Homo sapiens: one gene and its partners. The protein of the gene in region 2 purifies or fractionates together with the protein of the main gene of each other region. This does not show direct contact. Each region holds a gene or a part of one and is shown on either strand. Other genes may lie near its edges.

The links.
Region 1: the proteins of OLFM4 (region 2) and NID2 purify together in Homo sapiens (affinity purification with mass spectrometry; 3 studies listed by BioGRID and IntAct, with this or other methods). This does not show direct contact.
Region 3: the proteins of OLFM4 (region 2) and RDH13 purify together in Homo sapiens (affinity purification with mass spectrometry; 2 studies listed by BioGRID and IntAct, with this or other methods). This does not show direct contact.
Region 4: the proteins of OLFM4 (region 2) and INTS6 purify together in Homo sapiens (affinity purification with mass spectrometry; 3 studies listed by BioGRID and IntAct, with this or other methods). This does not show direct contact.
Region 5: the proteins of OLFM4 (region 2) and GNL3L purify together in Homo sapiens (affinity purification with mass spectrometry; 3 studies listed by BioGRID and IntAct, with this or other methods). This does not show direct contact.
Region 6: the proteins of OLFM4 (region 2) and MTFR1L purify together in Homo sapiens (affinity purification with mass spectrometry; 3 studies listed by BioGRID and IntAct, with this or other methods). This does not show direct contact.
Region 7: the proteins of OLFM4 (region 2) and BMP7 purify together in Homo sapiens (affinity purification with mass spectrometry; 3 studies listed by BioGRID and IntAct, with this or other methods). This does not show direct contact.

The regions. Positions count from the first base shown.
Region 1 is NC_000014.9:52,037,540-52,042,048, forward strand, and holds part of NID2 (nidogen-2 precursor), read right to left. Parts: intron 3,313-4,509; coding exon 3,112-3,312; intron 1,439-3,111; coding exon 1,208-1,438; intron 1-1,207.
Region 2 is NC_000013.11:53,041,790-53,046,298, reverse strand, and holds part of OLFM4 (olfactomedin-4 precursor), read right to left. Parts: intron 4,390-4,509; coding exon 4,177-4,389; intron 3,195-4,176; coding exon 3,035-3,194; intron 1-3,034. UniProt on the Homo sapiens protein: May promote proliferation of pancreatic cancer cells by favoring the transition from the S to G2/M phase. In myeloid leukemic cell lines, inhibits cell growth and induces cell differentiation and apoptosis.
Region 3 is NC_000019.10:55,049,086-55,053,594, forward strand, and holds part of RDH13 (retinol dehydrogenase 13 isoform 1 precursor), read right to left. Parts: intron 1-4,509. UniProt on the Homo sapiens protein: Retinol dehydrogenase with a clear preference for NADP. Oxidizes all-trans-retinol, but seems to reduce all-trans-retinal with much higher efficiency. Has no activity toward steroids.
Region 4 is NC_000013.11:51,369,516-51,373,413, forward strand, and holds part of INTS6 (integrator complex subunit 6), read right to left. Parts: intron 1-3,898. UniProt on the Homo sapiens protein: Component of the integrator complex, a multiprotein complex that terminates RNA polymerase II (Pol II) transcription in the promoter-proximal region of genes.
Region 5 is NC_000023.11:54,532,702-54,537,210, reverse strand, and holds part of GNL3L (guanine nucleotide-binding protein-like 3-like protein), read right to left. Parts: intron 1-4,509.
Region 6 is NC_000001.11:25,821,954-25,826,462, reverse strand, and holds part of MTFR1L (mitochondrial fission regulator 1-like), read right to left. Parts: exon of another isoform or gene 3,445-4,509; 5' UTR 3,359-3,444; coding exon 3,335-3,358; exon of another isoform or gene 2,857-3,334; intron 2,820-2,856; coding exon 2,715-2,819; intron 162-2,714; coding exon 52-161; intron 1-51. UniProt on the Homo sapiens protein: Mitochondrial protein required for adaptation of miochondrial dynamics to metabolic changes. Regulates mitochondrial morphology at steady state and mediates AMPK-dependent stress-induced mitochondrial fragmentation via the control of OPA1 levels.
Region 7 is NC_000020.11:57,178,989-57,183,497, reverse strand, and holds part of BMP7 (bone morphogenetic protein 7 preproprotein), read left to right. Parts: intron 1-4,509. UniProt on the Homo sapiens protein: Growth factor of the TGF-beta superfamily that plays important role in various biological processes, including embryogenesis, hematopoiesis, neurogenesis and skeletal morphogenesis.

The DNA of each region.
Region 1 (4,509 bases), on a different chromosome or scaffold from region 2:
CAGGACCACACTGTCTTGATTACTCTAGATTTCGAGTTTGAGAAATACAAGTCTGACTTTATTCTTTTCCAAGATTGTTTTGGCTATTCTGTGTTCTTTGAATTTCCATATAAATTCTAGAATCAGCTTGCCAATTTCTTCAAAGAGCCAGCTGAGATTCTGATAGGGATTATGTTGAATTAATAGATCAATTTGGGAAGTATTCACATCTTAACAGTATTAAGTCTTCCAATCCATGAATGTGGAACATCTTCCCATTTAACTGGGTCTTAAATTTTTTTCCAAAAATGTTTTGTGGGATGCAATGTACAAGTACTGCACTTCTTTTTAAAAATTTATCTCTTTTTGAAACAATTTCTTAATCTTTAGTTTGCTCATTGCTACTATAGAGAAATACAATTTGGTGTACTGATCTTGCATATCTTATAACATTGCGAACTTGTTCTTTAGTTCTAATAGTGTTTTAGTGAATTCCTGAGATTTTCTACACAAAATGTCATCTGAGACTAATTTTACTTTGTCCTTTTCCAATTTAGATGGCTTTTATTTTGTGTTCTTGCCTAATCACCCTGGCTAGAAATTCTAGTACTGAATTGAATAAAAGTGGCAACAGCAGACATCCTTGTCTTGTTCCTAAGCTTCAGGGAAAAGCATCCAGTCTTTCACCATTAAGTATAATGTTCTGGGAATCATGGAGGGGGAGGTTATACATCAAGTTCTATGATGTTTGGTTTTTCCAGATACTAGCTCTTTGCTCCACCTTAGTTTTGGATGAAATTCTTCTCATCTGTTTTAGCTAAAATGTCACTTTCTTGGGGACATCTTTTCTGAATCTTCAAACTAGACTCACAGTGCCCTGCTCTCATCACACTTGTAACAAATACTTGTCAGCATCACTCTCCCTCCTAATTCCAGTCTGCCTTGTTCACAGGTATATTCCTGATTGGCACGCACAGTTGGGTATTGCTATAAACCAGCTTCACATACTATGCTCTATTTCCTGACTTTGGCAGGGACACTGTTCCCTGCCCTAAAACTCTTTTCTGCCTCTGTTTCCAACTCAAGGGCAAGGATCTGCTCTATTCATCCTTATACCTAGCACATAACACAGCATGGCACTAGGTAACCCTTAGTAACCTCTGTGAATCATTCTAACTCTACTTAAAAGGATGTCATTTTTACCCAACAACAAAAAAGGAAACCTTACCTTTGACCGGGCCAATTTGATTGGTCACAGCAAATCTAAGCACTCTTTCTTCGTCATTATACAAGGCAAAGACCCGGTCCACGTTCAGCTGCTGGGTGGTGGGGAAGGACGGGTGTCTGGGGGCGTGCCTGCACACCTGGTAAGTGATGTTCTGGTGGATGCGGTAGGACCATGTTTGGTTGATTGCACCAAAAGTCAGAGAGTAGTCTCTGGAACTTGTAGAGGTCACAGCTGCAACAAACACAGTGGTAATTTTTTAAAAATATTAAATACAGAGATTTTCATGTGAGGTGGATTTTTCTGCAGTTTTTTTCATCTAATTCTTGGAGTGTGTTCCCTTGGGAACCTCCTGAGTTTATATGAAAAAATGTGTAAGGAAATCCCAAAAACCTGAGTGGATGCAAAGCCACAGTGCTGAGAGGGAGAAGGCACTACAATTGTCCATGTTATTATACACAAAGAATAAGTGTTACTAAGGGCCAGCCATGCCAACAGTGCTCTCTACATACTGCCTCATTTATTCCTCACAACAGCCTGGTGAGGTGGGCACTAAATCATGTGATCAGAGGCTCACAAAGGTTAAGTAGCCTAAGATGCAATGCTGCCACATGGTAGAGCTGGAACTGAAACTCACATTGGTTTGACTCTACACCCTAAATTTTAAACCAATCCATCTTCTACATTTCACAGAAGTGACGACTTCCAACACCTCGCACTTCAGTAAATCTGAAGGATTCCAGAGAAGGGAAAGGGTTGTCTCTCACCATCTGAGTCTAGGAGTCAAGCTCAGGTCAGTGATCCGGACACTGACCATTTTGTTCACAGCCCAGGTCTCTGCTTCCCCTTGTCTTCCCTACATCTCCTGCCAGGCTGCCAGCTCTCAGCATAGGAGCAGCAGGGGTCAGAGGAAAGGCACAACTCAATCCGGATTGCTGTGCTGCACAACAGCAGCTGTGATGGAGGCAGCATCCTGTGCGCAGGTAGTACTTTCACAGAACACATCACGCTTCGCACACATTGATCACATAATATAGAAAAAGCATTTTTAGTTCCATGTGAAAGATGAGAAAATACATTCTCAGATATTAAGAGGCCTTTCCCTATAGATATTAAATGGCAAGTCCAGGATATAAATTCTTATCTTTTGACTCCAAATCTAGCATTAGTTTTATAATAAATTATAGCATCTCTGTGTTTTTTGGTTTTGTTTTTGAGATGGAGTCTTGCTTTGTCGCCCAGGCTGGAGTACAATGGCACAATCTCGGCTCACTGCAACCTCCACTTCCCAGGTTCAGATGATTCTCCTGCCTCAGCCTCCCAAGTAGCTGGGATCGCAGGAGCGTGCCACCACACCCTGCTAATTTTTGTATTTTTAGTAGAAACAGGTTTTCACCATGTTGGCCAGGCTGGTCTTGAACTCCTGACCTCAGGTGATCCACCCACCTTGGCCTCCCAAAGTGGTGGGATTACAGGCATGAGCCATTGCACCTGGCCTCTTTCTGTGATTTTTTTTTTTTTTAAAGCAGCCTGAACTCATCAGCTGAAACAAGGTTGAGATAAATATAAATTCCAATAATCACTATTTTTCCATGTTGCAGAAAGTAGGATGGTTAAAAACTGTATATAATTATACCATCCCTACCCACCCCATGGACAATGTTGCTATTGATTTTATTATTTGAAAATACTATGTAGGGATATAGATATTCTTATGTATAGCAGCCATTCTGCTCACTTACACGATATATTTCATGGTAACAATAAGAGTAATAACATAATAGAGCTCATTTTATGTTCCATGCACTGTTCTAAGGACATGCCATGTAAGTCATTTAAGCCTTGTATCTATCTTGTGAGATGGGCATAATCCCCATTTTACAGATGTGAAGACTGGTTATACATACTGGAGTCGGAGTAGTGGTACAGCTCCTTGTAGGGAGAGATGTGGGCTGTGAAATTTGCTGAGACGTAAGGCACCTGGCCTTGAATGTTGGTCTTAATGCTCAGGTAGTTCTCTGGGTCAAGTCCCTCAGCAGTTTGAGTGATACGAACCGTCTCCTCTCCCGGGTAGAATGTAACTTCCATGTCATGGGTAAAGGCAGCACCTGGAGATGAAAAACATTCAGCACAGGGATGAAAAGAGGTCTTGCTTAAACAGTTACCAGTATATACTGCCCGCTCCCAATTTCTACTGCTGTTGGAGATCGTGCCTAAGGAGATTATCTGATATCTGAGAGTAAGCACTATCAGCTGTTGATTCCATAAGTTCCCAAACTTTTCCATTGAAGAATATGGTTTCATCCTGCCTTACCTCACCCAGCTTCTCTTTGAACAAGCTTGTATTCTGTGAGAAATACTCTTGGGAACGTCCTTGACTTTTCTCTAAGGTTGCTAGACTTAGCAAAAAACAAACAAACAAATAAACCTAACAACAAAAAAACAAAAACAAATAAACTACCACCTAAGACATTCAGGGTTTTGTTTGAATTTCAGATAAGTATGTCTCATGAAATATGTGGGTAATACTTATACTAGAAAATTGTTTATCTGAAATACAAATTTATCCAGGTGTGCCATTTTTTATCTACTTTTGACCCAAGGGCTTTATTCAAATTTTGATTAAAGCAAGAACCTATTAACAGCTACCGAGCTCTGCAGTTAAAGATGGAGAAAGAACTTCTCACAAAACTATTTTTAATGCAATAAAGATAAAACCTCTAGCAAACAAGTTTTCAGGTTGGAAGGTGAGAATCCAAAAAGTATCTTCTAAATCCTTGTTGTCAACGGGTGGCCTTTCCAGCAACACTGGTACCTCACCTCCTAGCTTGGTAGAAAAGCAAAATCACGGACCCCACCCCAGGCCTGCTGAACCAGAATTTACATTTTGACAAGACCTCCAAGTGATGTGTGTGCAGGTTCAAGTCTGGGGTGCACCGGCCTATACTATTATAGGTTGTGGAGCTGGGAGGAGAAGAGCACCCCTTCCCCATGAAGTAAAATCATCCCCAGGTGCCCCAAGTACCATTTTTGCATTTGACAGATCTGTGCATAATTTAAAAAGCCTGACAAATATGCTGCAACAAATTGGGGTAAGAGGACACAAATGTTCTGAATGGAATCATCCTGTTTCTCAGAACAGCTGGGAGAACATTTAGACGAAATCACTGCCTTTCAAAAATCAGTGATGTGAGGTCAAACCATTCCCAACAACCTGTGGCCAGAAAACTACACACATGTGGCTCTAGTACATTAAACAAGTGATTCCTCTGTCACTGCGTAAAGGCCTAAAGACAGTGCCCCAA
Region 2 (4,509 bases):
GTTAGTAGCATTTTTTTGAAGCCAATAATTATATGCCTACAGAGGAAAATTAGTCTTGGATCTATTAATGCACTCTCTCAACTGGGCAACTGAACTTTGTTTGAGCCAGGAGGAGAATATGATTGACTTATAAGAATTAGGCAATTAAAACAATCATAGTCATAAAATGATTAAGACTAAATTGACTCTGAAGTGTTGGATATATGCTGTTCAACATGTGGCTCTTCCCTAAGCTTGAGATTTTAGCAGGTCACCCCATTTCTTTCAGACCCCATTTAATCATCAGCTACTTACTGAGCATCACTATGGACCAGCACAGAACCTTGCATCCCCAAGCAAACTGGAGATCAACCCCTGAGCACCCGATCACATTTGGCCTATATACAGTCATTTAGATTCACAGGCAAAACAGAGACAGACTGAAGTTTTAAGGGAAAAAAGTTAATGAGTAGAAGGCCAATTATTTTAGATTAGAAAGTTCTATGAAATGAGGCAGAAAAAGGACGTTGTTTGTAGCAAAAACCAAATAGGAAGCATATTTTATTGAACCTGGGATACATTCACTTGTTCTAAGTTCAAGCTGACCACTGGGTCAGCAAACTGTAGCTATAAGGGAGGGGGCCCAGAGAGCGCAGAGTTACTTTAGAGCTGAGACTTGCATATAGTCTTTTTTATTCTGTGCAACTCTGCAGTGAAAAAAGCAGACAGGCCAGATTTTAAAGTCCCATAATAGAGAATAACTTTAATTAAAGTCTCCACAGGCTCACAAGTTTGTGGTGCTTGGGGATTTTCCAATTCTGCATTATCAACCAATCCAAACAGAAAGAGAGCAAGTGAAAGAAATTGATTTAAAAACATGACCAAAAGTCAGTTTAATATAAACATCATAAATATAATATGAACAAAGCTGGAAGAGAGCCAAGTGGCTTGGCAGGGATTCAGGTACAGCCAAGGTTGTGGGAAAGTGAGTAAAAATCTGGGTCCAATTTGCTTAAACAACACAGCTGGGCTAGGATGGATCACAGAAGTCTAAGTGTGAGGGCCTAGGGGAAAGTTCTGGGAAAAAAAAAATCCAACAAAAACAACCCAACAGGCTCACTTGTTTTCTTCCCTGGATACTAAGCAATGCATTTTCTCCCCACCGTTGTCCTTGGATTACTGCTGCCTGACACCTTCGGTCCTGAACTGACCAGGGAGCAAAGACCCTTGCCTTGCAGCTTCTGCTCTGTCATTAACTACTTGTGTGGCCTCAGGAAAAGCAGCGTTCTTACCATCCACGTCTTCTCCTCTGAGACAAGACGAGGCTAAGTTAGATGGCCCTGAATATTCCTTCATCTAAAATGTCCTCATTCTAAGGGATGCATAGAAAATTGTGCCAGAAAAATCTATTCCATGAGGAGGATTTGCAAGGGGTGTTGGGGAGCTCGTTCAGGGATTATCAGGAGTTGTCATTGCTTCAGCCTCTGCCTCAGTGAGTCCTCTGTGGTCCACCAGAAACAGCTCTCATTTGCTACATTTTTGCACCACTAATCCCAGACTAAATTTAGCCTTAGTTTATTACAGAGGACAGACCATGTTGTCTGCCCTAAACCTCCTATGCAGGATGCGAAATTTGAACAGTTGTTCAAATTTATGTCACCTCCTTTCTGGAGAAGTTGAAAGGCCATTTCATTCTGGGGCAGGATTCTAACCATTAGATGACACCTGTCATAGTAGGACACACTCCTATTTGCAGAGGGAGGAAAAAAATCCACCTGAAGAAGACCAAGAGGCTTATATCTATGGCTATACCTATTTAATAATTGAAGCCTTAAAAAATCAGTTACAATGACAATAATCCAGAAACACAGTCTAAAAGAAAGCAGGTGTGAGGATTGGAATTCATAAAAATAAAAGGATTGCATGATTTGATGAAAAGATACAGTCCCCACTCAGGCTAAGATGCTCAGGACCTGCAGAGAGAAGGTCCCTGTGTCATTGATATCTCTAAAGGATGGGGCTGAACACTGTGGCTGAGAGGCTTTAGTTTACCTGAAGGAATGCATTGCAGGGCACAGTAATCTGGCACTGCTTTTGTTTTGCTGCAAGGCTTTCGCTTCAATTATCAACATTATTAACAATATCCATTGCCAGCGTGTGAGTGCCGATCATAAGGTTCCGAGCTTCCCAAGCACTGACTCATTAATCCCCACAGCCACCCTGCAAGGCAGGCACTATTATTCTCCCATTTTACAAATGAGGATATTAAGGATCCTTTTTGCTGCAGCCACCTAGCTGAGAAGCTCAGGTCTTTGGAATTCTAAAGCTATGTTCTTGTACCCTACACTCCACTGCCTCTGTTCATGGGTATATTTGCAGAACACCCACCTCTGTGCTGTACTTAACCCCAATGAGAATTCATTAAAGACGAACATGCCACCCCTACTCCAAGAACTCACAATCCATGAGGAATGGCAAGACACACCCACAAGCACATGATATGTGGGGTCATTCCTTTAATCCTCACTGAATCTCAGGACACACAATATAGCAGGTGCTCAGCATGCATTTATAGGAAGAAAAAAGAAAAAATTAAAGAGAAACAGAAGGAGAGAGAGAAGATGGCAGCATCAAAGGCATAAACCCAGCTCATCAGATAAGTGAGCCAATCAGTCCTTAACTCCACAGGAAAGTGGATGCCACACACAGATTCCAGAGGCTTTCCCCTGAGGCCCCTGATAGGGCCTCCATCACCATAGAGATTTTTGTTCCCTGTTAGAAAATGCAAAGAGAATACGTGTAACTCGTGGATTTTGCTTTAAATCAACTCATTGTTTGTGCTCTTCCTCTTTGAAACCCAGAATATGATAGCATGTAGAATACTTGGGAGGAAGGGAATTTTAAAACATGGAAGAGAAAACTGAGAACTGAAAAAAAAAAAAAAAAAACAACCCACCTTCTTCTTTCACCATTGCAATCCCCAATCCCTTCCCCACCCCACTCACAGCTCCTTATGGGGTCTGGCACAAGTGGTTAAAAAAACTGGCATGCTTACCTGGAGTGGGAGGAGGGTGGACGACAGGGGTGTTTTGATCTTTAGAGGCCTCACACTCTTTCAGCTTGGTCTTCAGAGCCACGATTTCTCGGCGAATGGCAAGGACATTGTTTTTGTCTAGTGTCTCAAGCTTCTCTACCAAGAGAGTCATATTTCTTATCTAAGGAAATAAAAATTCAGAGTGACTTTATATTATGGTGCAATTTCTTTCATAAACATTCCAGGGCTGAATTTGTCATTTAGTGAAACATTGCCAGAGAATACACCAGAGATTCTTCTGAATGGTTTCATTTGGAAGAATACATTTTATGGTTTAGCATGAATGCCTGTCAGATCTCAGGCAGATGTGTGTGACAAGAAGAAAATGGCAAAGATTTTAATAGCTTTAATAATAGAGCCCAAGCTCATCCTCAGCATCCACAAATGTCCATTAAAGTTCATTTCTAATAACCTTCCCCTATAAACTTGTGTTTACTCATGTTGTATTATAATTAAGATTCTAATGAATGGTGAGGGCCAGAGAAAGCTTAAATTCTAAAATACGTAACTAGAATTCTCAATTATAGCCCATGTCATGACTGTGCTAGTAAATTTTTGTTGATATAAATTACCCAACCATAACGTTAATGTGATGGTCTTTATCCACAGATCTTAAAAGGCTTTACAGAAATATACAAGAAATTTCTTAAAGGGGGTTTCCAGTTTGCAGAGAAGGATTCCAGGTTATTCAAAAGGAGAAACAAACCTAGCAATTTTACCACAATCAGGTATATTGTGGATTTCTAGTTCCATGAGGATAAATCTAGAGCAGAGAAGACACCTCATATAGCTTGGCCATGAACCGTTGTTCAACTTTATGCCAGCTCCTTTTCAGAGAAGTTGAAAGGGCATTTTATTCTGGGGCAGGATTCTGACCATTAGACAACATCTGCTCCTAAGTCAGCACATTCCCAATGTGCTTAACTTACTATTCAAACACATGCCCTTATCCAAAACAGAACATAGTGATATGCCATGTGGCCATGAGACAGTAGAGAATTAGAAGTTGGAAGAGATAGTTTCACTTCCTGGTACTAGTACTTGCTTACAGTCACTGAAGGGAGTTTATTATTAATTTACCAAGAAGTGAGTTCACTCCTTACCTCCACCTCCAGCTGGTCAACAATTTCTGAGCTTCCACCAAAACTCTCCTTCAGCTGTATGACCAGTTTTTCCATCTCCTTCACTTCTACCTTGATCAGCTCGAAGTCCAGTTCAGTGTAAGAAATGGTATCCTTCTCCATGATGTCAATTCGGACAGTTAGGTTTAACAGTTTCTTTTCATACACACTAATTAATTGGACATATTCCCTCACCTGAAAGAAAATCAAAAGGTTCAAGCCAATTCCCTGAGTAGTATCACACCATCTTCTTCCACTACCGAGCCCTTGAGTTGAGAACTATTTGATTCTTGCCAATCATTGTGTTTTGTAAAT
Region 3 (4,509 bases), on a different chromosome or scaffold from region 2:
GGCCCGTCTCACAGGTCACAGCCACAGGGACACCGCGATTCAGACTGCCGGCTTCCGGAACCGTGAGGGAATGCACGTCTGAGGGTGTAAGCCACTGGGTTTGCAGTACATTGTTACAGCAGCTCCAGGACACTCACACGCCCTCCGCACCTCCATCTAAGCCTTGGGACTCCTTCCTGCCGGAGCCCCGAGGCCAAAAACGGGAGGTTACCGGTGGGAGCCCCGGCACCGCAGGCGTGGTTTCATTCCCAAACCTGCCACCTCACTCATACAAGCAACCAAAGGACACACAGATGGAGACTGCAGCCTCAGTTTCCTCAGCTGTAAAATGCGCTGAACCACAGGGCCTTCCTCCCTGTACCACTCAGCTCGGGTTCCGTAACAAAGTGCCACAGACAGGTGGTTTAAAACCTCACAGACCTGGCCGGGCACAGTGGCTCACGCCTGTAATCCCAGCACTTTGGGAGGCCGAGGTGGGCAGATCACCTGAGGTCAGGAGTTTGAGACCAGCCTGGCCAACATGGAGAAACCGCGTCTTTACTAAAAATACAAAATTAGCCAGGCGTGGTGGCATGCACCTGTAATCCCAGCTACTCAGGAGGCTGAGGCGGGAAAATCGCTTGAAACCAGGAGGCAGAGGGTGCAGTGAGCCGAGATCGCATCATTACACTCCATCCTGGGCAATAAAAGCAAAACTCCATCTCAAAAAAAAAAAAAAAAATCACAGTCCCAGAGGCTGGAAGTCCCAGATCAAGGTGTGGGCAGGGCTGGTTCCCTCTCAGGGCCCTCAGGGAGGATCCGCTCTGGTCTCTCTCCTTGGCTCACAGGTGACCATCTCCTCTCTCCCTCTTCCCTTCCTCTTCCCTTTGGAGCTGTCTCTTTTTTTTTTTTCATTTTTCCTTTTTTAATTTTAGATTTTTCAGACATGGTCTCACTATGTTGCCCAGGCTGGTCTCAAACTCTTGAACTCAAGCAATCCTCCTGCTTTGGCCTCCCAGAGTGCTGCAATTTCACTGCCCCCAGCCTATTTTTTTTTTTTTGGGGGGGGGAGATGGAGTTTCACTCTTGTCACCCAGGCTGGAGTGCAATGGTGCGATCTTGGCTCACTGCAACCTCTGCCTCCCAGGTTCAAACAATTCTCCTGCCTCAGCCTCCCAAGTAGCTGGACTACAGGCATCCACCACCACACCGGGTTAATTTTTTGTATCTTTAGTAGAGACGGGGCTTCACCATGTTGGCCAGGCTAGTCTCACACTCCTGACCTCGTGATCCACCTACCTCAGCCTCCCAAAGTGCTGGGACTGCAGGCGTGAGCCACCACACTCAGTCTACTTGGCCTATTTTTTATATTTCTTTGAGACAGGGTCTCCCTCTGACACCTGGGCTGGAGTACAGTGGCGCAATCACTGCTCACTGCAGCCTCAACCTCCCAGGCTCAAGCAGTCTTCTTGCTCAGCCTCCCAAGTAGCTGGGGCCACAGGCATGCGCCACCATGCCCAGCTAGCACGTCTGTTTCTGTGCGCAAATCTCCCCTTTTCATAAGGACACCAGTCACTGGATTAGGGCCCACCCTAATGACCTCATTTTCACTTCAGGACCTCTGTAAACACCCACCTCTAAATGAAGTCACATGCTGAGGGATGGGGGTTCAGGATCCCAACCTATCCTTGGGGGTGGAGGACACAATGGAATTCATAATGCTCCCGAAGTGGTTTTCGGCGGGGATCGTGAATTAGGTGTCCAGCGCGTAACACACAGACACCATCTGGTTCTCTGTGTGAGAAGGAGGGGGTTGCAGCACACCCGTCATGAATACCAGCTCTGGAGCAGGACAGACAGGTTCAAAGCCTGGCTCCACCCCGACCAGCTGCATGATCCTGGCCAAGTCACATCACTTCTCTGTGACTCAGTTTACTCCTTGTAAAAAAAAAAAAAAAAAAAGGATAATAACATCACCTGCCTGGTACAACTGTATACTTACTCATTCAGTAAGTATTTTCTAAGCACCTATTACTGGGCACTGGAAATACAGGGTGGACAGCACAGCCGAGGCCCCGTCCGTGTGGACCGGACATTCCAGTGCAGCTGAGAGCCACTTCCACTCGTGAGAGAATCTACCCGTGACAGAGCTGCGTGGAAGCTGACAGGAGGCCCCTCTCAGGAGGTGACGCAGAAACTGGGACCGGGAAAATGAGGCAGGGCCCACGTGCGGAGACCCAGGGAAGGGGGATGCAGGCAGCAGGCGCAGCACGGGTAAGGCCCAAAGGCGGGACAGGGAGACTCCACTCACAGCTGGGCGCCCAGGAGTGCCGCCAGCTTCTGGTGTTTTGTTTTGGTTTTTTTTCTTTTTTTTTTTGAGATGAAGTCTCACTCTGCCACCCAGGCTGGAGTGCAGTGGTGTGATCTTGGCCCATGGCCCACTGCAACCTCTACCGCCTGGGTTCAGGCGATTCTGCTGCCTCAGCCTCCCGAGTACTGGGATTACAGGTGCCCGCCACCGCACCCTGCTAATTTTTGCATTTTTAGTAGAGACGGGGTTTCACCATCTTGGTCAGGCTGGTCTTGAATTCTTCACCTCGTGATCCACCCGCCTCTGCCTCCCAAAGTGCAGGGATTACAGGTGTGAGCCACCGCGCCCAGCCTGTTTTTTTTTTTTTCTTTTTATGAGAGGGAAGCTCACTCAGTGGCCCAGGCTGGAGTGCAGTGGCGCGATCTCAGCTCACAGCAACCTCCGCCGCCAGGGCTCAAACGATCCTCCCACCTCAGCCTTCCACATAGCTGAACCACAGGCGCCCGACACCACAAGCAGCTACTTTTAAAATTTTTTGTAGAAATGGGGTTTGGCTATGTTGCTTAGGCTGGTCTCGAATTTCTGAGCTTAGGCAATTCGCCCACCTCGGCCTCCCAAAGTGCTGGGATTGCAGGCGTGGGCCACAGTGCCTGGCCTGTTGTTTTGTTTATCTGGGAACTGCCTCAACTTTTTTTTTTTTTTTTTTTTTTTGGACACAGGGTCTCACCCCGAGTGCAGTGGTACAATCAAAGCTCACTGCAGGCCGGGCGTGGTGGCTCACATCTGTAATCCCAGCACTTTGGGAGGCCGAGGCGGGCAGATCACCTGAGGTCAACCAGCCTGACCAACATGGTGAAACCCTGTCTCTACCTAAAACAAAAAAGTAGCCGGGCATGGTGGCAGGTGCCTGTAATCCCAGCTACTCAGGAGGCTGAGGCAGGAGAATTATTTGAAACCAGGAGATGGAGGTTGCAGCCTGACCAACAGGAAGAAACCCCGTCTCTACTAAAAATACAAAATTAGCCGGGCGTGGTGGCGCATGCCTGTAATCCCAGCTACTCGGGAGGCTGAGGCAGGAGAATCACTTGAACCCAGGAGGTGGAGGATGCCGTGAGCCAAGATCCCGTCATTGCACCAGCCTGGGCAACAAGAGCAAAACTCCGTCTTAAAAAAAAAAAAAAAAAATCCCTCACTGCAGCCTCAACCTCCCAGGCTCAAGCAATCCTCCCACCTCCACCTCCCAAGTAGTTGGGACTACAAGTGCACACCATCACGCCTGCCTCATTGTTTTTTATTTTTTTTTTGAGATGGAGTCTCACTCTGTCACCCAGGCTGGAGTGCAGTGGCGCCATCTCGGCTCACTGCAAGCTCCACCTCCCGGGTTCACGCCATTCTCCTGCCTCAGCCTCCCAAGTAGCTGGGTTACAGGTGCCCGCCACCACGCCCGGCTAATTTTTTTGTGTTTCTTAGTAGACACGGGGTTTCACCGTGTTGGCCAGGATGGTCTCGATCTCCTGACCTTGTGATCCGCCCGCCTCAGCCTCCCAAAGTGCTGGGATTACAGGCGTGAGCCTGCACGCCTGCCTGATTGTTTTGTATTTTTTGTAGAGATGAGGTCTTGCTATGTTGCCCAGGCTGATCTCAAACTCCCTGATAAACAAGGCTGTGGGTACCTGCTTCCTGGGGCTCTTTGCTTTGTGTTCTTTCTAGTCGGGAGCTGGGAAGAGCCACAGCTTCCAGCTTTGTCAGAGTGTCATCTCACAAACTGATCTTCCCAAAACTTCTGTCTCCCAAAGTGCCGGGATGACAGGCGTGAACCGCTGCACCTGGCCTGCCCCAGTGTGGTAGAATACACACCACATAAAATGGACGATCTTCACTATTTTTAAATCCACTGCTGTCTTTATTCCTGGCTGTTGATCTTAGGAAAACACCAAGAAGCTGGTACTTGATTTGCTAAAAAAGTCACAGACACAGCTTTACTTAATCCTCTAGAGAGGCTGGGCGTGGTGGCTCATGCCTGTAATCCCAGCACTTTGGGAGGCCGAGGTGGCTGGATCATGAGGTCAGGAGATCGAGACCATCCTGGCTAACACGGTGAAACCCCGTCTCTAGTAAAAAATATAAAAAATTAGCCGGGCGTGGTGGCAGGCGCCTGTAGTCCCCCGCCACTCGGGAGGCTGAGGCAGGAGAATGGCATGAACCCGGGAGGCGGAGCT
Region 4 (3,898 bases), 1.7 Mb from region 2:
CAATTTTTACCCTTGGAGGAAAAAATAAAGCCAATTTCAAGTAGTTTTTAGTTTTCTGGTTTATTCTATAGCAATTTTATTGAAACAAGTAGGTTCTTGATACTTCAATGAAATATCTATGATCAAAATTATCACGGTCATCTATCTCTACCTTAGAGAGCCCTAACTCACACATATGCCTTATACATCTGGTATCATTTAGAGGCAAAAGTAAACACTGGGTAGTTTTTACTTTCCACTTATATTTCTGCCTTTAACTGTTCCAAATTCTGCAGGGAACATACCACCAAACAGGTAATGTTTTACAGTATACCTTCTAACTAGAGAATCTAGTCATCATTTATTTACCAGTGCAGAGCAACCTGGTGCCCACTTCAGCTTATTAGACTACTAAAACTGAAAGCTCGCAAGCCTTCCTCTTAACACCAGATTATTAGACTTGCCCCACAGAAAGCAGCTGAATTTTAAGTTCTCTGATTGCTCACCAACCTCCAGGATCCCAGCTGAATTCATCTCTACTGTCCTCATTTCCTGTCCAAACTATAAACTTAGTTTACCCATATTCCCCTATACACTCATCACAAATCCCCCAAATTCCTGACTCTCTCCTAAATTCGATTCCATGATTTGCAAACTCCTCTTTACTGAATATTCTCTACAACAACTTATGCTTTAACTGAAACCCAGCTCTCCTGTATGGAGACTGCTCTCCTTTCCAGACCAAAAGTAGAAATTGCTTTCTCTTGCACAATCTCCATAGGCATAAAAGGACATGGAGTCACTGATTCCTTCACTTCCTAGTGCTATTGCAAAATTACTCCCTTGCACTCTTGTGAGACTCAACCATGCCATTCACGCTGTCTCTCCTTATCACTATCTTAGGCCAATCTCCAGGGTACAAGCCTGTAAGCCACTGTTGTCTCTGGCACCCAGTTCATAGCCTTCCTTCTGTTGTGCTGAGCCCCTATCAACTCCAGTGGGGATGGCACCAAGTTCAAGAAGCCAAAGAAGAGACCCAGAGCCAGCAAACAAGACAAGGCGTTTTGTTGGGGGCTACATAAAGGGGAGCAAGCCCAGTGGTGGCAAGCTAGGCAGGAGAAGCACCTTACATACAGTCCAATGGTGGTGGGCTGGACAGGATAACTGCACGGCCCAGTGGCAGCAGGCTGGGCAGAAAAATGGCAACTGCTTGCAAAAAGTATACAGTTTATATCGTATTTTCACTTAGCACTCTTCCCCCTAACAACCTCCACCTGGCAACCTTCATTTAACCCAAAACAAAGGGCCTCAATCCCCTGTCTGGCCTGCATTCACTTCACAATGGGTTAGGGGCACAGATGTTCCTTATAGATAGGGAATGGATCTTTGGGTTAGCCACCCTATTCCCTAGCTCAGAACTCCCAACCGCATGCAGGTGTTGTCTGCAAGCAGGGTCATTCTCAAGGTATGCTTCAGTTATTGCTATCAAGCACATCTGCCATGCACATTCCACCCCCAAAGCCCTTCTGACTTCATTCTTGGTTCTTACTACTACTCGAAGTCTGGTGTGTGGACAAGCAGCAGTACCACCAACAGAGAGCTTGCTAGAAATGCTCATCTGCCTCAGACTGAATAAATGAGAATCTGTAGTTTAACTAGACCTCCCAGGTGATTCACATGCATATTCAAGTCTGAGAAGTGCTGTGGTGACTTCAGTGTTTAAGCAGATCACCTGTTAAGAACCTGGCCTCCCCATTCCCCAGCTTCTCTCTAAAGAACTTACACTTACACCTTCGCCTTTCACATCCAGACAAATTCAGAGATGGAGGAGTATCATCTTCACAGTACTCCCGCTACTGCTCCTTAACTCAGCCAGACTTTGACTCTAGCAATTCCTCTACTTTCTTCCTCCTATTAACCATATCCCTTCTAAGTAGCCAATTCTGTATCAGGCTTATATCCCTGTAAGTAAAAGTGATATATCACTTTTACTAATGTCTGAATTTCTCTTATTCTACTGTCTTCCCATAACATCTGCCAAGCAAAATCCCATCTCTTGACTCACTATCTGCTTGCCCCAGACTTGCATTTGGAATCATGAGCGCTGCTGGAGAAATAGGGCCCAGCTCTACAGAGTGGTCACAATCACCATCTCTACTTGGATCCCAGGCACTGTCTAGCAACCTTATCACAATCTTTTCTCTCTCTCTCCCACAGAGATTGTTAAACTCCCTCACTCTCTTCAAACCTCTGACTTTCCCAATATCCCCTTCCGTCTCAGCAGTATACTTCACCTTCTACCTCACAGAGCTCGGAAGAAAAGCAAAGCCATGATTAAGGGACTTCCTTTACCTTCCTCTAACTAAATTGCACACACCCTCGCCCCACTTCCCCCACATTCAGTGTCAATGGAGGGAGCATTCTTTCATCTATGCTCTAGACCATTCCCTCTTGCGTTCTCAGTAATTTTGTGCTGAGTATGCCTTTTCTCATTTTTATTTTCAACCTCTCCCTCTTTACTGGTTCCACCACCAGCACTGAAACATGCTCAAGCATCTCTGATATTAAAAACAAAGAAAAATCACCATTTTCAAAACCCTGTGAACTCTTCCAGATACCATGCTCTTTTCCCATCTTCCTTTTACAACTAAACTTAACTGGTCGTTTATACTCATAGCCATTGTTTCCATTTTCTCACCTCTCACTCCTCCCATAACCCCTTGTTAGGCTCTGCCCCTTTACTCCACAGAAACTGCTCTTGCTAAGATCGCCAAAGACCACAGAATCTTTCCATTTCTCTTGATTGAACAGTTTTTTTTTTTTTTTTAAAGTATTTGGGACAACTACCCACTCAATTATCTTGCCCTTTAGCTTCCATGACATTAAATTCTCCCCTATTTTCTCCTAGCTCTAAAATTCTTCCTTCTCAATCTCCTTTTCTGCTTTCTCCTCTTAACTTTGGCACTTTCAAGGTTCTGTTCTGAGCGTTTTTTCTTCTTTTTGCCTTGGTGAGATTTTATTCAGTGCAATAGGCAGTAACCTGCCTCTCATACTACCCCTCTAGCCCAATCCTCTTCTCCTGAGCCCAAACTCAATATTCATCTTCTAACTTAGGATCTCCACTTGATGACCTAATATGCACTTCTAAACTAAACTCATTTATCATTTCTTCTTCCACCCACCCAGTGTCTCTCAAGACATACGTCTGACTCCTCCCCTGCTCTGGTCCCAACATCTGACCAGTAACCAAGTCCTTCAGTGGTATGTCCAGGTATTTCTCAAATACATATTCTTCTTGAAACCCCACTGTCAGGTCAGCAGCATCTGTTCCCCGGGTTTCCCAACTGATTCCTGTGCATGCACAATTATTTAATAACATCAAATATACAGTCAGTGTCCATACTCTCCAACATGTTTTCTGTTTGTGGAAAAGTTTGATTTTGTTTGATTCTGAGTACAGTTAAGGCCTATACATTGCAACTGGCTTATATATCTCTTAAACTACATTTGAATCTGTAAAATCCTTCCGTACCCCTTTTATTTTTCTGGAAAAAATATTTTTTTTCCAGGAAAAAAACCCAACAGATTCTTTGTCCTGTAGAGTTTTCTACAATCTGGATTTTACTAACGGTATCCCACATGTTTCTCTGTCCCCTGTATTTCCTATAAATTGGTTTGATTACATTGATGTTCAATTTTGGTGTTTGGTTTTTTTTTTTTTGGGTAAGACAACTTCAAAGGCAGTATTGGATACTTCCATCAGGAGTCATATAATATTTTGTTTCCCTTCAGTTAACATGCTGTAAGTATGACCACTATATATAATTGATAAGTCCATTAATTCATTAGGGTTTCCCTACATTCATTCTTGCTCCTCTCTGATAATAGTCCACACACATTACAGTCAACCTGGTCTTCA
Region 5 (4,509 bases), on a different chromosome or scaffold from region 2:
CTATATAAAAAAAAAAGTTTAATTAACCAGGTGTGGCGGCATGCACCTGTAGTCCTAGCTCTCAGGAAGCTGAGGCGGGAGGACTGGTTGATCCCAGGAATTCAAAGTTATAATGAGCTATGATGGCACCATTGCACTCCAGCCTGGACAACAGAGACCCTGTCTCAAAAAAAAAAAAAAAAAAGATTAACAACCAAAAAGACATACCCTGGACATATCCTGATGAAATTTCTGAACTCTAAAGATAAAGAGATAAAATTCTAACCAACAGATCACTCTTACTTTGTGAAAGTAAGAAAAAGACATTTTCAGGTGAGCAAAGATTACCACTTGCCTTTCTTTCTTTCCTTTCTTTCCTTTCCTTCCTTCCTTTCTTTCGTCTCTCCCTCCCTCCCTCCCTCTCTCTCTCTGTTTTTTTTTTTTTTTGAGACAAAGTCTCGCTCTGTTGCCCAGGCTGGAGTGCAGTGGTGCCACCTGAGCTCACTACAACCTCCACCTCCCAGGTTCAAGGAAATCTCCTGCCTCAGCCTCTGGAGTAGCTGGGATTACAGGCGTGCACCACTGTGCCTGGCTAATTTTTTTATTTTTAGTAGAGACGGGGTTTCGCCATGTTGGCCAGGCTGGTCTCAAACTCCTGGCCTCAAGTCATTGGCTCGCCTTGGCCTCCCAAAGTGCTGGGATTACAGGCATGAGCCACCACGCCTGGCCCTGTGTTTCCTTTTGGATAAAACTACTGGCAAAATAAAAATTAAATCAGAATAAAGATCCCAAGCTAAAGGAAACAAACAGTGGTGGGCAGGAAATCTACGGAAATCTACTAAAACTTATCACTGAGGCCAGGAGCGATGGCTCACAGCTATAATCCCTGCACTTTGGGAGGCCAAGGCGGGTGGATCACTTGAGGTCAGAAGTTCAAGACCAGCCTGGCCAACATGGTGAAACCCCATCTCTACTAAAAATACAAAAATTAGGAGTTTGAGACCAGCCTGCCCAACATGGTGAAACCCCGTCTCTACTAAAAATACAAAAATTAGCCGGATGCCTGACTTGAGGTCAGGAGTTTGAGACCAGCCTGCCCAACATGGTGAAACCCCGTCTCTACTAAAAATACAAAAATTAGCCGGGCGTGTTGGCACGCACCTGTAATCCCAGCTACTCGAGAGGCTGAGGCAGGAAAATTGCTTGAACCCAGGAGGTGGAGGTTGCAGTGAGCCAAGATCGCACCACTGCACTCCAGCCTGGGCAACACAGCAAGACTCTTGTCTCAAAAAAAAAAAAAAATTAGCCAGGTGTGATGGCACATGTTTGTTGTCCCAGCTACTCAGGAGGCTGAGGCAGGAAGATCACTTGAGCCCAGGAGGCGGAGGTTGTGGTGAGCCATGATCACACCTGCACTCTAGCCTGGCCGACAGAGTGAGACCCTGTCTCAAAAAAACAACAAAAAAAGGATTCTTAAAATCGAAGAAGCATATCATAAGGAAATAGCTCAGAACTGAAATACCAAATTATTTCAATAAAATCCAGGAATCAAGTAATGGGGGTTGGAAAAGCAAAAGCATGAAAGCATGCTAAAGGTTTCATTTTGAAAGGGTAGGTTACAAAATAGTCATTATTTAACTTTGGTAAAGTGATAAATACAGAATTAATTATGTTTGATATAAATATGAATACAATTACCAACATAACTTAATTACCGATGGAGGATTGTTTAAAAACTTCATCAAGTTAGCAAAACATAAATAAGGGAATAAGAGGAAACAAAATAAATAATAAATATAAAATAAGATGGTAGAGAGCCGTGCACGGTGGCTCACACCTGTAATCCCAGCACTTTGGGAGGCTGAGGTGGGCGGATCACTAGGTCAGGAGTTCGAGACCAGCCTGGCCAACATGGTGAAACCCTGTCTCCACTAAAAATACAAAAATTAGCTGGGCATGGTGGCAGGCACCTGTAATCCCAACTACTCGGGAGGCTGAGGCAAGAGAATCGCTTGAACCCAGGAGGCGGAGGTTGCAGTGAGCTGAGATCGCGCCATTGCACTCCAGCCCGGGTGACAGGGCGAGACTGCATCTCAAAAAATAAATAAATAAAAAATAAGACGGTAGAAATCTGACCAGACATAAACGTCTCATAACAAATGTGAATGGGTCGAATTTAAATAAACACAGTTTAAATAAACACGAAACAGACCACCAGTCTCCTTTCTTCTAAAGTACTCATGTTGCAACAACAACAACAAAAAAAATGTGAGGTTTGGAATGAACCAGGTCTGGACATTTCACTCAACAATTTCCATCTGCCTAACTTCCCTGGAAACTGAGTGCCTGCAATGGATACAAGCACACAGTGAAAGAAAACACATCACTTGGAGAGAAAAAGAATGTGCTTCAGAGGGGAGAAGAGAAGGGGGGAGGGAAAAAGGAGAAGGGGGTGCAGTCAGTCATCCCTCCCAGCACTCAGGAGCCTCTGCTCATAGGTTTTTCAACAACTCCAGAGAGAAAACAGCTACCATTTTATAACCAGCAGACATTCTTACTCTGGCTCAACAACTACCTAGCTATATGACCTTGAAGAATTTTTTAAAACCTCTCTGAGCCTCAATGCATCCACCAATATCATCTAGGCCTAAAATCACCAATTCATCAGTACTCAAAAGCAGATCTCTGTATTCGCTAATCCCTCATCTCCCATACTGTCACCCACAGATGTCCCTGTACACCCACTGACTTCATTCCCCTCATCCTTCCTCTGCCGTAGCATCAAATTTCCCACAACATTCTCTGAAACTCCCACCTGGGTGATCAGCACTCCCCTAACAACCTCTCCCTGGGATCAATTGTCCAAGCTCCTGCCTTGATACTTGGCTCTCCCAAGGACAATGCTTCACTTGCAGGCCTCTCAAAAGGTGGTTGTTGTTTTCACTGCCACACGTTTATCCGGGGGTCAGTAGGTAGAGAACGTAGCCCTCCAGACTCACCAGTGCCAAGCTGAGACTATTTTTCCCTCTTGTTAAAAAGAAAAAAAAAAAAAACCAGGTGTGGTAGCTCACGCCTGTAATCCCAGCACTTTGGGAAGCCAAGATGGGAGGATTGTTTGAGCTCAGCAGTTCAAGCCCAGCCTGGACAACATAGAAAGACCCTCATCTCTATTGAAAAAAAAAATTAGTGGGGCATAGTGGCAAATGCCTGCTTTCAGTTAGCAAATCTGAAGATCTTTCCATCTAATAGTCTTTCCACACAATACAGTTTTTCCATATAATCTTTCTATATGATACTACTTTATCTTTTAAACAGCCAGAATTCTTAAGTATGCATATATCCTACTTTATTTAACGAGGTAATTTTTGTCTTTTCCATCACTATCAATATTTCTATCATCTAGTATTAGATGTTCCTAAATAAAGTATAATTACCACCTTTCTTGTGTTACTTATAAATATGATTATTTGGTCGGGCATGGTGGTTCACGCCTGCAATTCCAGCACTTTGGGAGGCCAAGGCAGGCGGATCACTTGAGGTCAGGAGTTCAAGACCAGACTGGCCAACATGGCAAAACCCCGTCTCTACTGGTAACAAAGCAAGAGTCCATCTCAAAAAAACATAAAAAATAAAATAAAAGTATGATTATTTGCTTTTGGTATTAACAGTATGATTCTTGATGACATTTTTATGATTATATAAAAAATGTATTTTTTTCCCACCAAGCTGTCCACTGGCAGGGCCAGCATTCACACAGAAAACAGAGCACAATCCTCATCCAGCCTGCCCAGTGCCAGTGTGCTATCCAAATGTTATCATTTTCTTTTCTTTTTTTGTTTTGTTTTATTCCTTTTTTTTTTTTTTGAGACAGCGTCTCACTCTGTCGCCCAGACTGGAGTGCAGTGGCATGATCTTGGCTCACCACAACCTCTGCTTCCCAGGCTCAAGCGATTCTCCTGCCTCAGCCTCCCAAGCAGCTGGCATTACAGGCACGCTCTTAATCACTAGTACAACTTATGGTACCAACTGATAGAGAAAAATGTTAGGACATGTCGGGGTTACAGGCAGTGTGATATGTTTTTATCGCAATTCACCTCAGATCAAGTCACTTAACCTTGCTAAGCTTCAGTTTCCTCATCTGTAAATTGAGAATGGGGCATAATGGAAACATTCTCTTACAAGGAAGTCAGGAGGACAGCAATGATACCATATGAAAAAGATCCAGACTGAGTGATGTGAAACATATTCAACAGTTTTTAAAAGTTGCTGTGAAGGCTGGGCGCAGTGGCTCATGCCTGTAATCCCAGCACTTTGGGAGGCCGACGTAGGCAGATGACTTGCGGTCAGGAGTTCGAGACCAGCCTGGCCAACATGGTGAAACTCCGTCTCTACTAAAAATACAAAAAGTAGCCTGGCATGGTGGCACACACCTATAATCCCAGCTACTCGGTAGGCTGAGGCAGGAAATGCTTGAAACCGGGAGGCGGAGGTTGCAGTGAACTGAGATTGCACCACTGCACTCCAGCCTAG
Region 6 (4,509 bases), on a different chromosome or scaffold from region 2:
TCTTCTGGGAAGTTCTCCATTCCTTAGCAGACCAGCTACTGCCTCAACTACCTGACCCGGGCATATGTCTCCTCTTCATCCGCAGCAATCCAGGCGATGTCAGCCAGGGTAGGGACTGGGGGCACATCTCTCAAACACAGGTCAGAGATGTTGGGCAGGGTCTATGGAGAAGCAAAAGTCATCAACATTTACAGATGCCATGATGAGCCAATCAGAAACTGCAGAATACACAGGAGGGGTACCTAATCCGGCACTGGGTGTCAGGAAGGCTTCCTAGAGGGGGCAGAAGAAGGTTCCTGGTCGAAAACATTGAACAGAGGCCAGATGACAGTCAGGCATGGTGGCTCACACCTGTAATCCCAGCATTTGGGAGGCCGAGGCAGGCAGAATGCTTGAGACCAAGAGTTTGAGATCAGCCTGGGCAACATGGCAAAACCCTGCCTCTACCAAAAAATACAAAAATTATCTGGGTATGGTGGTATACGCCTGTAGTCCCAGCTATTCAGGAGACTGAGGTGGGAAGATGGCTTGAACCTGGGAGGCAGAGGTTGCAGTGAGCTGAGATTGCACCACTGTACTCTAGCGTGGACAACAGAGCCACATTCAAAAACAAAAACAGGCAAGACACATGAGAGTCTATGGGATTACAAACAGTTCTGTGTCTTCAGTGGAAAAGGCCTGAGTCACCTTTTAGTAGAGATGGCAACTGTCTAAAACCACTGTGCCCTCTGGTGAAAATACAAGTACAAGGTCATCCACAACCTGTTACAGCAATAGGAAATTTTTCCTGACTAGCTTTTTATAATCCTGTATAGCTAATTGAGATCTACATTGTTACAGCAATGCTGTTTTAAACAAACCTGAAAATTTGAATATATTTAGATTTAAATAAAAATAAATGATTATACAAAAGGAACCATAATAGGATTTCTTAAAATAGCTCCTCAACCTAGAGATGTTGAGTAAAGTGAAAAATTAGGATTCAGTCATGTTGACTGTGATTACAACAAAGTAAAAAACATCCATCTAGAAAAAGAGGACTACACTAAGACATTAATAGTTATTGTATTATTACTATGTAATTATAGGTAATTTATTTTCCTTTTACTTTTCATAATTTTAATATTTTCATATGCTTAAATTTTCAAAATAAATTGGTAAGAGTCCCTTAAATAATATTTAAGGTAATTTAATAATAATAATAAATGCATATTTACACACAAGTAAGATTCAACTGTTTCTGCTACAAATTATTTGGTATGGTAGATGGATCCAGGATTGATCGCTCCTGCATTTAGATAGGAAACCTGGGACTCACAGGAGTTAAGTGATACTCCAAGGTCACACAGAGAAGAACTTCCAGTGACCCAGGAACTAGTGCTAAAATAGGGCATTTGGGGGAAGCCTCCATTTGTTTTCCTGATTAGCCCTGAATGCTCCTTTGCTCTTGGCAATTAAATGAGTAAACAAATATAAAGTACAGCACAGTGCCTGACACATAGTATGTGCTCAGTAAATGTTATCTAGTATTACCAATACTGCTCACATACATTCCTGCTCTGTGAGAGCCTGTGCCCTTGATTGTCTCTGCCCAGCATCTGGCCAAAGAACTGAAGAGGGTATAGCCAAGTGTGGGGACGGCCTCTATGCAGTGAGCCACACTCCCTAGCTGTCTCCCTTTTTTTTTTCTGATGCTTCTGAGGCAAGTTAGGACCAGTTCCTGCCCAGGATCTTTAGACAATTCTGGATAGCTGGCAATCTGAATACTGGGACAGCTTTTCCTGCCCCCTACCCCTGCGACACTTCCAACTCCATTCCTGACCCTAATACCAACCCTGACACCTCTTCTAATTCCAGATCCAGTTCCTACAGACTCTGCTTCTTAGCATCTTTTATACAGATTTGGCTCCTTCATTTCTGTTTCTACCTGGGCCCACATCCTTTCATGCACATATTTCTATCTCCTCTGTGTGGGTAGAAAGCACAAGTATTTCTTTTGTATCCCAGCTCTCCAAATGCACACATCTGAACCATATAGTTTGGGGCTGGTGCTTAACCATTTAGTTCCTAGAGGGAGGCAGCTGGGACTAATAAATGCTACTTAGCTTTCTACCACAGAAGGGGTCTCAAGAGACCTGGGCCAGGTAGGAATCTCTGCTGCTGAGTGGGTGCTAAAGGATCCCTAGACACAGAGGTAAGACCAAAGCACCCCAGTAAAGGATGCCCAGATTGGCCAAAAAGAGAAGGCTGAGGAATTATGGCCTCAGAGAAACACTAAAAATAGTGGAGCTGGGCATGGTGGCTTGTGCCTGTAATCCCAGCTACATAGGAGGCTGAGGCAGGAGGACTGCTTGAGCCCAGGAGTTTAAGACCTAGCCTGGGCAACATAGGGAGACCTCATCTCAAAAAATAATAAAATAAAAATACTGGCTACATGGTCAATTCTTAGGGCTGGTGAAGAAAAGCAGAGTTCAACTCAAAAATCACAATAGTCAGTGTCCCATGTGGGGGACCTGTCAGGTTCCTTGTGGTCACAGGTTTGTATGCACTCAGGAGGACACAGTGACCAGGATATCTTATAAGCATTTAACAAATATTTCATAACAGAATGAAAAGTGACCAGGAAACAACCTACTTGGGCAGTACCAAGGGGTTTGGGGCACAGAAGCAGCACTGTCTGAGCCTCTACTCTCCTGCCCTTCCAACATACTCACCTCAAAGGACGCCCGGGCACACGGCTTCAAGGGTAGGTTGGTCCCAATTCTTCTTACTACACTTCGAGCAGCCCCATGTGGCTTGTTTTGCCAGATTGGGATGGTCTGGAGCAAAGAGACGGAGACAGCTACAACCCCAGAGAATGAATCCAACTACTGTCCTTGTCCTCTCCTCTCTAGGTTTGTGGAGACTGAATTCCACAAACCTAGGGACAGGGCACTCTCTAGGGGCAAGTCAACTCTCAATTATAGTGAGGGCAGGTTCCCCAGTTGCCAGCCTACACCCTGGCCAGCCACCCAAGGGAATACCTGCTGCTGCTAAGGCAGTCAATGTTGGGAGGGTCAGGGAAGGGGAGAGGAAGTAGCTGAGTGTAGAGATTATCCAGGCTTTCCTTCCCGTCCTCTGTACAGAAAGGCAGACATACACTGACTCCTGAAGTGCCCCAGGATCATAGTTGGTTCTTCTTAGGGGGAGGGAGTGAAACGGTGGCCTTGCTCCAATTCCAGGCCTCTGGAGAAAGGAGTGCTCAACTGGAGAGTCTCAGAACCTTTTACAGTACTTCAGCAGGCCCAGCACCCAACCTTCCCCACCATACCCCTGCCCTGGGAATGCCCCTTACCACAGTGGCTTCCATTCCTGACATTTGAACCAGCTCCTGCACTTGAAGGACAAGGCAGCCACTGGGCAGCTCCGGGAGGCGGGAGGCGTGACTCCTTCATATCAGGCCATCTGGAGGAGCACCAGATTTCCCTCTTGTGAAACAACCCCCCACAGTGGGGATTTAATGGTCACCACACAAGCCCCAAAAAACCAGGCCCTGCAGAGCCATGACTTCACAGGGGAGAAAACCAGCCCAAGAGGCTGCCCTCACCCAACACTTAGCTCTAAGTCCAGACTCTTAAAGGTTCTGTTAAAGATCTGCGGCCAGGCGCAGTGGCTCACATCTGTAATCCCAGCACTTTGGGAGGCCGAGGTGGGCGGATCACGAGGTCAGGAGAGCGAGACCATCCTGGCTAACACAGTGAAGCCCTGTCTCTACTAAAAATACAAAAAATTAGCCAGGTGTGGTGGCGGGCACCTGTAGTACCAGCTACTTGGGAGGCTGAGGCAGGAGAATGGCGTGAACCCAGGAGGCAGAGCTTGCAGTGAGCCGAGATCACGCCACTGCACTCCAACCTGGGTGACAGAGCGAGACTCCGTCTCAAAAAAAAAAAAAAAAAAAAAAGATTTGCCTAGTGAGCTTGGCCAACCCAAGAGCCTTCCTGGGCTCTCAGGTTTCTTGAGGCAAAACTTCTAAAGATGCAAATAGAATCCTTGGTAGCTACAAAGCTCATCTAGCCAAATTATAAGTACTATCCAAGCCCAGGATTCATTCTTGAAGATGAGATGTAAAAGCACTGCTGGGCCCTTGCAAAGGGAGAGATCAGAGAAAATAGGAGAACGAACACCAGCTCATGCCAATCTCAGTCTCATGAGCTACAGAGAAAAAGAGCCAAAAAAGTTTATCCTGGCTCAGCCACCTTCTGGCTTTGTAGCTACAGGCAAGTTATTTAACTTTTCTGAATGTTGGTTTTTCCATCTGGAAAAAGGAGACAGGAAAAGCTGCCACTGGAGGCTACCTTAAGGGTCAATGAGTGAAATGGGGTTGAGTGCTTAATGAACTGTTAAAACATGACACAGATGGGTGAGGTGACATCTGACTGCTCTTCACAGCAGTCCTTGCATGGTGAGCAGATGCAATCAGTGTGCTCGTTCATTCACTTGTTCATCAAACACCAACAGTACCCACTTGTG
Region 7 (4,509 bases), on a different chromosome or scaffold from region 2:
AACACCAAGCATGTAGATATTTAAATAAACAGAACAATGGCGGCACTTGCAGCTACACAGAGATGAAGGAAAGACCCTGAAACGTGGATGGGAAGACCCCTGGGGGGGCTTACCCCATGGAAGGAGGGGGAGGAAGAAATGGGGAGGTAGAAGAGTTTGCTGTATCTTTATTTCATAAATGAAAAATATTTTAAATTCATGGCAAACTTTAATACTTGATAAATATTATATATATATACACACACACACATTTTTTTTTTTTTGAGATGAAGTCTCACTCTGTCACCCAGGCTGCAGTGCAGTGGTGCGATCTCGGCTTACTGCAACTTCTGCCTCTCAGATTCAAGTGATTCTTCAGCCTCAGCCTCCCGAGTAGCTGGGACTACAGGTGTGCACCACTGTGTCCAGCTAATTTTTGTATTTTTAGTAGAGACGGGGTTTCACCATGTCGGTCAGGCCGGTCTCAAACTCCTGACCTCAAGTGATCCACCTGCCTTGGCCTCCCAAAGTGCTGGGATTACAGGCGTGAGCCACTGCACCCGGCCAGGTGGTAGGTGTTTTAAGAATATATGATGTGCGGTACTTTTCAGTTTGTTTGAAATGTTTATTTACGATAGGTTTTAAAAAAATTAAAGATAATATTTTTATTGCAAGCAAATCAAACATTAACAGTAAATATAAGTAAAGTTAACGCATTGTGCGAAGGAGACTTCCAGGAGGTCGTGCTCTGCAGGTCCTCTAAAGCAGACAGCTTTTAGCCCATCATGTTGTGTGGTTCTTGAGGCTCTGAGGTAGATGGCCTCCCACTTCACAGAGGGGAAAACTGAGGCTCAAAGAGGGTAAGTCGTTTGTCTAAGGGCACAGTGTAGGTAACTGGCAGCCCTGGGATTGGGTCCCTGGGGTCTGGGTTGTCCCTTGCCCCAGGCCCTCTTCCCTGTTGGGCATTGCCGGGGCCATCTACCTGGCCTGGATGAGCTTCGGTGTCCCCAGCAATCCCATTGGGTGCTTTCTGACAATTCACCAGGCATTCGTGGAGCCCCCACAGGAGCCTGGCTTTGTCCCGGGCACTGGGGCTGTGGCTGGGGTGCAATCCCTTTCCCCATAGGCTGATTGGGAAACCGACATTGACAGCCTCTGGTGGCCTGGGGGTGCTGGGATCCCCAGAAGGTGCATTCTGGTTTTGAGCTTTGGAGGTGGGCTGGCCTGGAGCAGACCTGCTGGCACTGTGGGCATCTGTGGACAGCCCTCCCACACCCCTTGCCTGGCTCATGCCCCCTGCACATGCAGTGTCAAGTCCGCCAGAAGATGCATCGGGACTCCTCCCAGACTAAAACCAAAGCTTCGAATAATGAACCTCACAACAAACCATTTTCCAGTGGACTGGAGGGGTGACACCTCCCAGATCCAAGGAGCCCAGTTTGCTCCCCATCCCCAATCCCATCCCGCCGGCCAGGGGAGCTGCTGCCCGGGGGTGCCGTTTCTCTGGCTCTTCAGGAAGCCATTTGCAATGAGCAGGGCAATAGCCTCTCCAAGATGCCAGTGTCTTAATCTCTGGAACCCGTGAATGTGTCACCCTCCAGGGCAAAGGGGAGTTACGACTGCCCTTGGAATCACAGGTGCTAATCAGCTGGCCTTCCAATACGCGGGCTCTGTGTAGCAGGGTGGTCCCATCGGTCCTTATAGGAGAGAGCCTTTTTGAGCTGTGGTTGGAGCCATGTAAGCACAGAGCACAGAGGGGTGGAGATGAGTGGGGCCACCAGCCCTGGGATGTGGGTGGCCTGGAGAAGCTGCACAAGGCAAGGAAGGGATCCTCCCCTAGAGCCCCCAGTTGCATTTACCTGCTAAGACTGGTGTTGGACTTCAGAGCCACAGAGCTATAATCCGCTTGTATTGTTTTGATAATTTGCTTGGTTAATTTGTTAAAGCAGCGATAGGAAAGAATACATCTTTGTTGGCAAAGTGATTTTCTTTTTCTTTTTTCTTTTCTTTTTTTTTTTTTTTAGAGACAGGGTCTCACGCCATTGCCCAGGCTGGCGTGCAGTGGTGTGAGCATGGCTTACTGTAGCCTTGACCTCCTGGGCTCAAGCAATCCTCCTGCCTGAGCCTCCCAGGTAGCTGGGACTATAGATGGATGCCACCACACCTGGCTATTTTTTGTAGAGACAGGGCCTCCCTATATTGCCTAGGCTGGTGTCGAGCTCTTGGGCTCAAGCTATCCTTCCACTTTGGCCTCCCAAAGTACTGAGATTACAGGCATGAGCTACTGCCCCCAGCCTCCTCAGAGTGCTTCCCTCATCCTGCTAAGGAGCTGGGACACAACCATCTGGGGGCCGGCTCAGGAGTTGCAGCCTTCTTGGCTCCAGGTTGATCACAAGGCAGAAAAAGGTCTGAGGTGCAAACCTGCCCTGCCACCATGTGGGAAGCTATTAGCTGCTTATCACCTCCGGGGCCTGCGGTTGGTCCCAGGAAGCACCCAAGGGGAGCAAGGGGCTATTGAGAAAGGTCCTGGCGAGGGGATAGCAGCAGCCCCACCCCCAAATTAACCCTCTAGTGCCAATAGCTTCTTCCTCCTTACCTAGCCTAGCTTGAAATTTATGTTCATTTTACTTTTCAAGGGAGAAGGCAGGTCAGTGGGGTTGGTGGCCTTTTTAAGACAAGGCTTCCTGACCCCTGGCGGGTGTCCTGGGGCCCCCGGATGGACCTCAGTGGGTCTGTGTGGCCCAGAGTGTGTAGGGATTCCGTATATTTTCTTTTCTGACAGTGGATCCATTTTTCCAGGTTTCTCAAAGGGGTCTTTGATCTCCCAAGTCAAAAACCAACCAAATTCCTTCATTTGTATTCGAAGCCTCTTTTATGCTGGACTCTTGAAGGCTAGGATTCAATGTCGAACACCCACACAAAGGCTGCCCTTGGGGGTGTTAATTTAGGACAGGAAGGAGGGGGTTGCCATTCACATCCATACATAGTAACAGACCCAGAGTCAGGGTGGTGCCTAGGGAACGCAGCCCATCCCGAGGGCTGCAGACAACATTTCGTGGCGAGCGAGCTGAGAGCTCTGGGTCCAGTGGGTGCCCACGAGGCCAGGCTGGTCCGGAGAGGATGCTCTGGGCTGTGGGACCTGCAGGGGCAGAGGCCTGTGCTGTGGGGTTTCCTGGCGCCTTTGGGGAGTGGGGAGGAGGCTGTGGGGGCTGAAGCAGGGGAGGGGAGTGAGGGTGGGCGGGTCAGGCATTCTCTTGGGAGTCACGTCTTGAGTTTGAACTTCATGCCAAGCATGTTCAGAAGTCTTTGCAGAGATTCAAGCTGTGGTGTGGGGTGCAGGTGATAAGATCATTCTGGCTGCTCTAAGAAAGGTGAGGAACAGGGTGGGTGCCGAGGGGGTGCTCAGAGGCCGGAGACTCCTTAGAGGATGTGGCAGATCATCCAGGCAGGAAGTGTAGGCAAACTGCATCCCGGCAGAGACTTCCGTGTCTTGGAGCTCCATCGGGTGCACCTGGGTAATGAGGGGGAGAGGAACTAGGCATCGCGGGCTTAGAATTCACTCTGATTTTCCCCACCGCCTCCTCATCAAAGCCCCACCAAGTCTCCATTTACACAGCCCCCAGGACGGGGCTCTCACTGTTTCCCGTGGCAGAAATTCATTGCTGGGAACCTGCCTCCTTCCCGCGGATGGCTCGTGGCCCTGTTTGCAGCTCTTCTAAAACCTGCCTGGAAGTTAAGAAAAAAATAAAATAAAAATACCGAGGCCTGGGCCCCACCCTAGGCTTAGGCCAGAGTCCTTGAGTGTGAGTGTGTACGCCTGTGTGCCTGCCCCTTTGAATCGCTCGTCCCCCCGGTTTTGGGCTGGAGCCCTGCCGTGGAGCCACACAAGTTGAATCTCTCGGCAGCCCTGTGTGTGCTGGGGCGGGGGCACATGCTCCGGCACGCTACCCCACGCGGAGCTCGCTTTCCTGCCCGCCAGCCCCCTCCCCCGGGGCTTCACGTGCTCTTCAGATGGTGCGGTTTGGGGTTGAGAAACTGGGTCCCTGCACTTCCTTCTCCCCACCCACGTTTGGACCCAGCTCCCTGGTAAGCAGCCGCCTTTGCCAGATGACCCGTGGAGGCGGGAGCTGAGCCTAAGCACCAGTCCTGACTTGTCTGCGGCCCAAGCAGGGGGTTGAGGAGGTGGATGAATCCCGGTGCTGGCGTCAGGGCTGTCTCCTGCTCACTTTCTGTTGCTTGGGGGCGGGTGGGGCAGGCTTGGACGGACAGGGGAGCTGGGAGTCCCTCCTTCGTTTCCTTTCCTTGTTTTCCTGCTAATAAGTCCTAAGGATACACAGGAGCTCCGGCCACTTTCTGCTGGGACAGCCGTGATCAAAGAGCCCTGGAAGCACAGAGCAGGGTCTGGAGTCCCTGGTGGCAGGGCCAGTGCCCACGCCTCACTCGTACACCATAACTAGCTTCATGAGCTGTGCTCGGCCTTGGTCTGTTTGGCCTTGGGTTTGAACTAAGTTATGCCAAATGTCGTGGCTT